Linked DNA regions of Homo sapiens. The protein of the gene in region 1 interacts with the protein of each later gene in a biochemical or structural test. Each region holds a gene or a part of one and is shown in the gene's direction. Other genes may lie near its edges. The genes, in order: RAB7A, VPS41 and RNF115.

What was found.
Region 2: the proteins of RAB7A (region 1) and VPS41 form a complex in vitro, tested with the Homo sapiens proteins (one study listed by BioGRID).
Region 3: the proteins of RAB7A (region 1) and RNF115 form a complex in vitro, tested with the Homo sapiens proteins (one study listed by BioGRID).

The regions. Positions count from the first base shown.
Region 1 is NC_000003.12:128,729,087-128,732,736, forward strand, and holds part of RAB7A (ras-related protein Rab-7a), read left to right. Parts: intron 1-3,650.
Region 2 is NC_000007.14:38,724,192-38,727,841, reverse strand, and holds part of VPS41 (vacuolar protein sorting-associated protein 41 homolog), read left to right. Parts: intron 1-853; coding exon 854-933; intron 934-1,515; coding exon 1,516-1,596; 3' UTR 1,597-3,650. UniProt on the Homo sapiens protein: Plays a role in vesicle-mediated protein trafficking to lysosomal compartments including the endocytic membrane transport and autophagic pathways. Acts as a component of the HOPS endosomal tethering complex.
Region 3 is NC_000001.11:145,765,000-145,768,649, reverse strand, and holds part of RNF115 (E3 ubiquitin-protein ligase RNF115), read left to right. Parts: intron 1-3,650. UniProt on the Homo sapiens protein: E3 ubiquitin-protein ligase that catalyzes the 'Lys-48'- and/or 'Lys-63'-linked polyubiquitination of various substrates and thereby plays a role in a number of signaling pathways including autophagy, innate immunity, cell proliferation and cell death.

The DNA.
Region 1 (3,650 bases):
ATATCCTTCTAGGTAGTTAGCAACCACTTGGGGCAATTTTTTTTAAAATTTTTTTTTAGTGCCAACTGTGTCTAAGCTCACCAACCCTGTAATCAGAGAACAACTCTTTATAGTAAAGTGTGGCTTTGAATCAGTTTTCTGACCCCACTGCCAAGTGAAGCCAAAAAATTTTGGTTATTTGATTAGCTTTTAATATGTCTTCAGCTGGGCACGGTGGCTCACGCCTGTAATCCCAGCACTTTGGGAGGCCGAGGCAGGTGGATCATGAGGTCAGGAGATCGAGACCATCCTGGCTAACACAGTGAAACCCCATCTCTACTAAAAATACAAAAAATTAGCCGGGCGTGGTGGCGGGCGCCTGTAGTCCCAGCTACTCGTGAGGCTGAGGCAGGAGAATGGCGTGAACCCAGGAGGCAGGGCTTGCAGTGAGCAGAGATCATGCCGCTGCACTCCAGCCTGGGCGACAGAGCGAGACTTCTTCTCAAAAAAAAAAAAAAAAAAAGTCTTCAAAGGGATCTTCACTAATAACGTTTTTGCTCTTACTTTGGCATTAGACTTTGTAAACAAAGATGTAGCAAACACAGACCACGCAAATATGACAGTTGTCTTATGCACATTCCTCTCTGGCATTTGACACAAATATTTTAGTTTTTCCTATGATAAAGTATTTATCTCCCCATTCATTTAATTCAACAAATACAGCTGAGATAGATTTGACCAGATGTTGGACTTGGAGCTGTAGGCAGGCTTTTCCTGGGGAGGTAAGGATTAGAAGTCCTCCTGAATAAGGCTAAACAGAGGTTCCCCTTGGCATTAAATGTCTTCTTCTGAAGGCGACTGAAACTCGAGAAATGAACTCCCCGCCTCCCCCCTTATTTTTTGGCTATTGGCTTGCTGTTGATGATTCTTACCTCTCATGTAAGGAAGGCTACCATTGTATTCTCAGGCATCCATTCCTTTGTGTTACCACATGCTTATCTGTTAATATTATCTAATAGTTCTCTATGCTTCTCTGTCTGCAGTTTGCTGCAGAAACATTTTTGCAATATGCTGATCTTTTCAGTTATTTGCTCTTAAATCTTCTATTCTGTTTTTCCCCACACTCCATATGGCATTAAAGACAGAAAAATAGTTTGTGTTTTAAAACTTTTTTTTTTTTTTTAGACGGAATCTTGCTTTGTAGCCCAGGCTGGAGTGCAGTGGTGCCATCTCAGCTCACTGCAAGCTCCACCTTCCAGATTCATGCCATTCTCCTGCCTCAGCCTCCCGAGTAGCTGGGACTACAGGCACCCACCACCACGCCCGGCTAATTTTTGTATTTTTAGTAGAGACGGGGTTTCACCGTGTTAGCCAGATTGGTCTTGATCTCCTGACCTCGTGATCCACCCGCCTCGGCCTCCCAAAGTGCTGGAATTACAGGCGTGAGCCACCATGCCCAGCCTAAAACTTATTTTTAAAACATTTCTTAATGGTGGTGGTCACTGCGATTTGTGAATCAGAGGTAAAAGTGATGTGGCGAGTGAAATCAAAACAAGTTTTTTAGCAGTGTCTGTTACCAGTTTCAATTTTAGTATCCCAGGCTGTGATTACAAAAACATATTTAAGAATAGCTACTTGCAAAATATCTCCTTGTGGGAGGAAGAAAGCTTGGGAGTTGGTTCCAATGCTGACCTACAGCATTGGCCTTGTTCATTTGCTTGAAGATGCAGTACTTAACTCATGGGGCCTGGAGTCTCTGTTTTGGTGATGGCATCACTGCTGAGAAATTTAAGTTTGCCTGATTCTGTTGTCCACTTCTGGTGTCCTGGGACTGTCTACAGTTGGGACCAAGCAAATCCAAGGGAGCCTATTTAAGGGGAGCCTGGGACAAGGGCAGTTTAGGAATTCTCCAGCCTTGCTTGTCTCTTAGTTGGTCCTTCTTGTGTGGCTGCTGCCAGATAAAGGAAAGGAAGTTCTCTCTTCTCCCTCAGCCTTTCCTTTCCAGCTTTGCTTCATACTGCTGGGCATTAACCATCTCAGATCAGGAGTCCTTTAAAAGTTACTTAGTGAAGTAAATAGTTACATCATTGATTTCCAATATTGGTATGTAAGTGTAATAAAAAGTTGGTTTCCATTGAATAAGCTTTGTAGTTTGAGTTATTTGAGAGTGCATAATTACAAAGCTGCTATGAATTAACCTTAAATAACCAAGCATAGACTTTATGAAAAATAGTGTCCCTTATATGTGGTATTCAGTCAGCCTACCAACAGTTCTTCTGTTCACTTACAGATATGAGGATCCCTGAGATAACTGCGGGTCATTTAAAACCCACTCTTAAATCCTCTGACCTGCACCATGTTAATGGTTGTTAAAAAAGCGATAACATTTTGTAGAAACCTTCCTACACATTTGCCTTTAAATGCTTTTTAATGTTTCTGTGGTATTTGTAGTTTACATGTGATTTCATTTGGTGCTCACAACTGTTGTGTGTATCTGCCTGAAATAGCTGAGGCTGTATGCTCAGGTGGCTCAGCTGGAATGTCAGTCTAGGTCTGCTAACTCAGTTCAGTGCTCTTTCTGATGTACCATCCTGCCTTTCCATTATATGCTAGTGCCCTAAAGACCACGACATTTCACCCCTTGTAAAAGTGTATCTTTCGGCCGGGGGCGATGGCTCACACCTGTAATCCCAGCACTTTGGGAGGCCGAGGAGGGTGGATCACAGGGTCAAGAGATAGAGACCATCCTGGCCAACGTGGTGAAACCCCGTCTATACTAAAAATATAAAAATTAGCTGGGCATAGTGGCATGCACTGTAGTCCCAGCTATTCAGGAGGCTGAGGTAGTAGAATCGCTTGAACTGGGGAGGCGGAGCTTGCAGTGAGCCGGGATCGTGCCATTGCACTCCAGCCTGGCGACAGAGCAAGATTCCATCTCAAAAAAAAAAAAAAGTGTCTCTTTCTTCCACTACCTTTTTTTTTTTTCTCTCTCTGAGACAGAGTCAAGCTCTGTCGCCAGGCTGGAGTGCAGTAGCATGATCTCGGCTCACTGCAACCTCCGCCTCTCGGGTTCAAGCAATTCTCCTGCCTCAGCCTCCTGAGTAGCTGGGGCTACAGGTGCACGTCACCATGCCCAGCTAATTTTTGTATTTTTAGTATAGATGGGGTTTCACCATGTTGGCCAGGATGGTCTCAATCCCTTGACCCTGTGATCCGCCCGCCTTGGCCTCCCAAGGTGCTGGGATTACAGGCGTGAACCACCACGCCTGGCCCACTACCTTTTATTTAAAATGATACGTCTTTTTTGCTGATTATTAAACTATTCAGTTAAAAAAAAAAAGCTAGGAAAATTCAGAAATATAAAGAAGGAAAATTTGTGATTCACTACCCCGAGGAAGACCAAAGTGTTAACTGGTTATTTTCTTCCTTTGAATGTATACTTTCATACCTTCCTTTAATGAGATTGAACTCTTGGCCAGGCATGGTGGTCAGTACTTTGGGAGGAGTAATCCCAGCACTTTGGGAGGGTAAGGCAGGAGGATTGCTTGAGCCCAGGAGTTCAAGACCACCTTCAGCAACAAAGTAAGACTCCATCTCTACAAAGAAAAGAAAAAATTAGGTGGGTGTGGTGGTACACTTGTGGTTCCAGATGGTGGGAGGCTGAGACGGGA
Region 2 (3,650 bases), on another chromosome or scaffold:
AAAGCGGAAACTAACAAAGCATTGTTAGGATGCTAACAAATGCTTTTCAAATATAAGTTCAGCATAACAAAGTACTAAAAGACCTAGTTGACCTCATGTTTACTTAGGATTAAAGGATTATTTCATGGGGCAGTCCATGAGAAGTTGTTCTACTTAGGTTCTTTTCTAGAGGAATTAGATTTGGATGTTTAAGTGCTTCTGTTGAAAACTGCATGGGCTCAGGTGAAGAAGTGAGCTTCCATAGCATTTCAGACAGTGTTGCAGCAAAAAGGAACCACATACATTCCCACTCTACAGTTAGATTTAACTCCAAATTTACTCTGCTGATGACACTAAATCTTACCAAAAATAAGCTGGCCACACAGAGCAGGAACAGATGAGGGGATCTGCCCAAGCACAAGTGCAGTAAAATGCAAGGTCACCACAGCCTGGGCTTGTAACCCAGGTCCGCCTCTGAGTCAGTGTGTGGTCTTGGCAAAGGTAGCAGGTGGACTGGCAAAGCATTTTTATGAAGCCACAGACTCAACTTCAGCTGTGGTGTATAATGATTATAGGGGTTAGGGGCGCATTGGCACATACACTTGCTGGTTTTCCTACAGTTGTCCTCAATGTAGTCTGGGTAAGTGACACAGAGGCTAAGCAAGTAACCTGTGAATCGCATAGCAACATGATTATAATACCTGTTTTGTGTCTGATCATACCACCCCTCAGGAATGCTTTTGTAAATAAGCCATTCTCTAAAGGCACCTTATTGCTGAAAATTAAACTGCAACTCGACTTTCAGTCGGGATTGGTTTAAAATGATCTTGCTTGTTGCATTAAGTTCTCCTCCTTTCTCTGCCCTCCTCGCCAGATGCAGCTAAGCCCTTCAGCGTGGTGGTCTTCCATTGCCGGCACATGTTCCACAAGGAGTGCCTGCCCATGCCCAGCATGGTGAGTTGGCAGCTTGGCACCTATCAACTAGAGGGAAATTAACACACTTAGAGGAATGTGCTTTAAACTGTAACCCTTCATCCTTATGGCTGTATGGGTTAAAAAAAAATTACAATGTGGATTTATATCACATAACAAAAATTAATCTAGTTTTCAAATGTAAAAATATTTAGAAATGTTCTATGTACTATAGTAAACATAAAAGCATACCCATTTGAAGGAATTCATTCAGGCCCAGTTGACAGCTGTCATGCTGTAGAGATGAGCAACAACAGTAGAGAGCCATTGTGTATCTTATGTGTTTCTCAGCCTGATTTGTGTTCCATGATGCTATCATTTTTTTAGTGTCATATTCCTCCAGGTCACATTAGACGTATTCTGCTGTTGGGTGTCCTTGGAGTCACAGAGTAACAGCTGATCTAGACTAAATCCTATGTTAACCAGAAATAAACTCCAGAGAAAGGAGTGCCATCCTATTACTTCCTCTCCACCCCCTGACTAACGCTACCTTAGTGTTTCTGAATATGAGAGTAGAAAAAGAAGATCATTTTTTAAATATGTGTTTTTAAATTGCATTTTTAGAACTCTGCTGCACAGTTCTGCAACATCTGCAGTGCTAAGAACCGTGGACCAGGAAGTGCAATTTTGGAGATGAAAAAATAGCTCATTTCTCCTTGTCAGTCTCCTTGTCACCACTCTTTTTGAGACTGTTTTTGCAACAACAAAAGCATTTGTTGACACTCGTGCTGTTAAGAGATTTGTTTATGTTTATATTATACTCAAAAACAATTTCTTCATCTATTCCTGTACTAATGGTTTCTCTTTGCAGTTCACAGAGAATTTGGGGCTCTCTTCATGCCTTGAAATTTTGGGGTCCATAGTGAATATTTTGTTATTTATTTGTTTGGCTCATTCTTTATATAGTAATGGAAACATAAGTCTAGGAGTTAGAAATGAATTTTTTAGACCTTAGTAAAACCATTTAACCATAAAATGGACAACTGAGAATTCTCCCAGCTGCCTGAAAGCGTCGCCAACTGTGGTTATCCTGCAAGCTGCTACCTGCAACTTGGACGTTGTTTCCACGTGCTCTGCTGGCTACGATTCTTGCATTCTGGGTTTGGCTTTTTTCTGTGTCATCAACTATGGTTATCCTCTAAATAGGCATTTAATGAAACATTGTACAAATTGTCACTCATTTGATGACACCTGGGAATAACATTAGCAGGCTGATGTCCTGCACCATTATGTTTACTAATCACATGTTCTGTGTGCTGTGACGACTGTCAAAGAGTATCTGGCCATGGCGGACACTCAGCATTTGTTGATTGAATAAATGTTAGCTCTTCTCATTGTGAAGGACTCACTTTTACTGGGATAAACAAATGCAGTTAAGAATTCTGGCACCCTTGTAAGGAAGAAAAGAGAGTTCAACACCTTCGAGTCTGAGCGCTTGTGGCTAGAGTTTGCCAGGAGGGAGGAAACCAGTGACCCTGAAAACTGAGGGTGCCTCAGGAGCAGTGGGACCACCTGATGCTGAAGGACGGACTAATGATGTTTCCTCTTGCCTTCTCTGGTGCCTCCATTGCCCTCATGGAACAGAGCATATCATAGAGGGAGAAAAGTCAAACTTGTAATTGTGTCTTACAGTTACTGGCTTCATCTTCCTTGGGATATATGGTCATCCTCTAATGAGTGTAAAAGTGCGCAAAACACATCCTTATTGTTCCTGATCTCTTAGTCCCATAAATGGGAACAAATACAGCTTTCTGCTTCTTTCTTTTTGGGGAAAGGACAGGGTGCTAGTGAGTACTGACAGCATGCCAGCTACCGAAGTCACCCAGCCATTCCCATGAGCAGCAGTTCATTTAATTGTCACAGCGTCGCCAGGAAGAAGATCTGATAAACCTAGGTTTACAGATAAAGAAAGCAAAATGTAGAGATGTTGTTGAGGTCACAGAGGTGACTGCCTAACTTCAGAGCAGGGCTTCTGATCCCTTTAAGAAATTACAGGGCCAGCCGGGCATGGTGGCTCACGCCCGTAATCCCAGGGCTTTGGGAGGCCTTGGCAGGTGGATCACCTGAGATCGCACGTTCGAGACCAGCCTGACCAACATGGAGAAACCCCATCTCTACTAAAAACACAAATTAGCCAGGCGTGGTGGTACATGCCTGTAATCCCAGCTACTCAGGAGGCTGAGGCAGGAGAATCACTTGACCCCAGGAGACGTAGGTTGTGGTGAGCTGAGATCGCGCCATTGCACTCCAGCCTGGGCAACAAGAGCAAAACTCCGTCTCAAAAAAGAAAAGAAAAGAAAAGAAATCATAGGGCCAAGTTCAAAGGAAATGCACAGAACATATCTTCACATTAGAGTTAAGAATTCTCTAGCAAACAACAGATTTTTTTGTTGTTGTTAGTCACAAATACTTAGAACTGGAAGGCTCTTTGTTATTATTGAATGTACCCCTCAGCCTTCTCAGCATTTCCTTATCCCAAGACTAGTGTGCTTTCTGCTACACTGCTAGTTTTCAGTTTTGTTCTTACCCAATTGTTTTTTCTTTTCAACATTACCAATTTACAGATTCAGTTTATTACATTTACATTAATCCTCACTTATGATTTGAGCAAGCTCATTTCCAGAAAAGTTTACTTTAAGATCATCAATAGGATTTGCTAATTTCAGTGAAGTCATTTTGCTTCAGGGGTAAATTATCCT
Region 3 (3,650 bases), on another chromosome or scaffold:
CGGGTTTCACTGTAGACAGAGTACTTTGTATTTAATGGCCGGGTGCGGTGGCTCACACCTGTAATCAGCACTTTGGGAGGCCGAGGCAGGTGGATCACTTGAGGTCAGGAGTTCCAGATCAGCCTGGCCAACATGATGAAATCCCATCTCTACTAAAAATCCAAAAATTAACCAGGCATGGTGGCGGTTGCCTGTTATCGCAGCTACTCAGGAAGCTGAGGCAGGAGAATCACTTGAACCTGGGAGGTGGAGGTTGCAGTGAGCCGAGATTGCGCCACTGTACTCCAGCCTGGGCGACAGAGCAAGACCTCATTTCAAGAAAAAGAGTACTTTGGCTGGCGCCAACAGGGTCCAGGTCTGTGCCTGCCATTGGAGAGGATGCCACAGCCACAGGGGTGGGCGCTGGCCTGGAGGCCTCCAAGGGGCATCTCCTGTGAGCCCAGGGGATGGGCAGGATCTGAGCGGAGAAGAGTGAAAGTGGAGGAGTGAGGCCAGAACAAAGGCTTTGCCGTGAAAGAGGTGGTTTCCCGCCTAGGCTCTGACCTTCACTCACTGTGTGGCCCAGGCCAAGGGCAAGCGTCTGACCTCGCTGGGCCTTTGTTTCTCAGGGGTAAGATGAAACAATGGCTCCCTCTCCCTCTCCCTCTCCCTCTCCCCACGGTCTCCCTCTCCCTCTCTTGCCATGGTCTCTCTCTGTCTCTGATGCCGAGCCGAAGCTGGACTGTGCTGCTGCCATCTCGGCTCACTGCAACCTCCCTGCCTGATTCTCCTGCCTCAGCCTGCCGAGTGCCTGCGATTGCGGGCGCGCGCCGCCACGCCTGACTGGTTTTCGTATTTTTATGGTGGAGACGGGGTTTCGCTGTGTTGGCCGGGCTGGTCTCCAGCTGCTAACCGCGAGTGATCCGCCAGCCTCGGCCTCCCGAGGTGCCGGGATGGCAGACGGAGTTGCGTTCACTCAGTGCTCAATGGTGCCCAGGCTGGAGTGCAGTGGCGTGATCTCGGCTCGCTACAACCTCCACCTCCCAGCTGCCTGCCTTGGCCCCCCAAAGTGCCGAGATTGCAGCCTCTGCCCGGCCACCACCCCTTCTGGGAAGTGAGGAGCGTCTCTGCCTGGCCGCCCATCGTCTGGGATGTGAGGAGCCTCTCTGCCTGGCTGCCCAGTCTGGAAAGTGAGGAGCGTCTCTGCCCGGCCGCCATCCCATCTAGGAAGTGAGGAGCGTCTCTGCCCGGCCGCCCATCATCTGAGATGTGGGGAGCGCCTCTGCCCTGCCACCCCGTCTGGGATGTGAGGAGCGTCTCTGCCCGGCCGCCCCGTCTGAGAAGTGAGGAGACCCTCTGCCTGGCAACTGCCCTGTCTGAGAAGTGAGAAGCTCCTCCGCCGGGCAGCCACACCGTCTGAGAAGTGAGGAGCCCCTCCGCCCGGCAGCCACCCCGTCTGGGAAGTGAGGAGCGTCTCCGCCCGGCAGCCACCCCGTCCGGGAGGTGAGGAGCCCCTCCGCCCGGCAGCCGCCCCGTCTGAGAAGTGAGGAGCCCCTCTGCCGGGCCAGCCGCCCCGTCCGGGAAGGAGGTGGGGGGGTCAGCCCCCTGCCCTGCCAGCCGCCCCGTCCGGGAGGTGAGGGGCGCCTCTGCCCGGCCACCCCTACTGGGAAGTGAGGAGCCCCTCTGCCCGGCCAGCCACCCCGACCGGGAGGGAGGTGGGGGGGTCAGGTCAGCCCCCCGCCCGGCCAGCCGCCCCGTCCGGGAGGTGAGGGGCGCCTCTGCCTGGCCGCCCCTACTGGGAAGTGAGGAGCCCCTCTGCCCGGACAGCCGCCCCGTCCGGGAGGGAGGTGGGGGGGTCAGCCCCCCCCCCCCCCCCCCCCCGGCCAGCCGCCCTGTCCGGGAGGTGAGGGGCGCCTCTGCCCGGCCGCCCCTACTGGGAAGTGAGGAGCCCCTCTGCCCGGACAGCCGCCCCGTCCGGGAGGGAGGTGGGGGGGTCAGCCCCCCGCCCGGCCAGCCGCCCCATCCGGGAGGGAGGTGGGGGGGTCAGCCCCCCGCCCGGCCAGCCGCCCCGTCCGGGAGGTGAGGGGCGCCTCTGCCCGGCCGCCCCTACTGGGAAGTGAGGAGCCCCTCTGCCCGGCCACCACCCCGTCTGGGAGGTGTACTCAACAGCTCATTGGGAACAGGCCATGATGACAATGGCGGTTTTGTGGAATAGAAAGCGGGGAAAGGTGAGGAAAAGATTGAGAAATCAGATGGTTGCCGTGTCTGTGTAGAAAGAGGTAGACATGGGAGACTTTTCATTTTGTTCTGTACTAAGAAAAATTCTTCTGCCTTAGGATCCTGTTGATCTGTGACCTTACCCCCAACCCTGTGCTCTCTGAAACATGTGCTGTGTCCACTCAGGGTTAAATGGATTAAGGGCGGTGCAAGATGTGCTTTGTTAAACAGATGCTTGAAGGCAGCATGCTTGTTAAGAGTCATCGCCACTCCCTAATTTCAAGTACCCAGGGACACAAACACTGCGGAAGGCCGCAGGGTCCTCTGCCTAGGAAAACCAGAGACCTTTGTTCACTTATCTGCTGACCTTCCCTCCACTATTGTCCTATGACCCTGCCAAATCTCCCTCTGCGAGAAACACCCAAGAATGATCAATTAAAAAAAAAAAAAAGAAAAAGAGTACTTTGTATTTGTATTTAAGAAATCAGATGTCAGAGATTAGCCTTTGTGGGATTATTAGTGTGTTCCTCACACCAACTTAATAAGTTTCCCTGAAATGAGGTCCATTTTCTTTGACTTTTTCATTGGCATGAGTAAAACTTTTTTACTAACACAGAGACAGGGAACTCTCACATTGTTCATTCATTCTGCAAATATTTATTCAGTGTCCCTAAAGTATGTGCTTTATCCTCTAATCTGCAGCTTTTGAATGATAGTTAATTAGGTCTTGAATAGACTAGCTCATCTTATCTGACTTTAAGTGCATCTGACCTGTGCCAGCAGATTAATTTATAAATTTATAACTGAGGGTATTCTGTTTCAGTGACTATAAAACTCATTTGTTTGTTAGCATACTCTTGTCTTTGAATTTCTCAAGTATCAAGAAATCAAAAGCAATCAGATGGTTGTTTAGTACATATAGAATCAGCAAGGAAATTGCATGATCTTTAAGAGAAATTCCATCCAGATTGTGATAAATGCTAAGGAATTACTCATATTTCACTTCAAATAATTTTTTTTTAATTTTTTTTTTTTTTATTGATCATTCTTGGGTGTTTCTCGCAGAGGGGGATTTGGCAGGGTCATAGGACAATAGTGGAGGGAAGGTCAGCAGATAAGCAAGTGAACAAAGGTCTCTGGTTTTCCTAGGCAGAGGGCCCTGCGGCCTTCCACAGTGTTTGTGTCCCTGGGTACTTGAGATTAGGGAGTGGTGATGACTCTTAACAAGCATGCTGCCTTCAAGCATCTGTTTAACAAAGCACATCTTGCACCGCCCTTAATCCATTTAACCCTGAGTGGACACAGCACATGTTTCAGAGAGCACAGGGTTGGGGGTAAGGTCATAGATCAACAGCATCCCAAGGCAGAAGAATTTTTCTTAGTACAGAACAAAATGAAGTCTCCCATGTCTACTTCTTTCTACACAGACACAACAACAATCCGATTTCTCTATC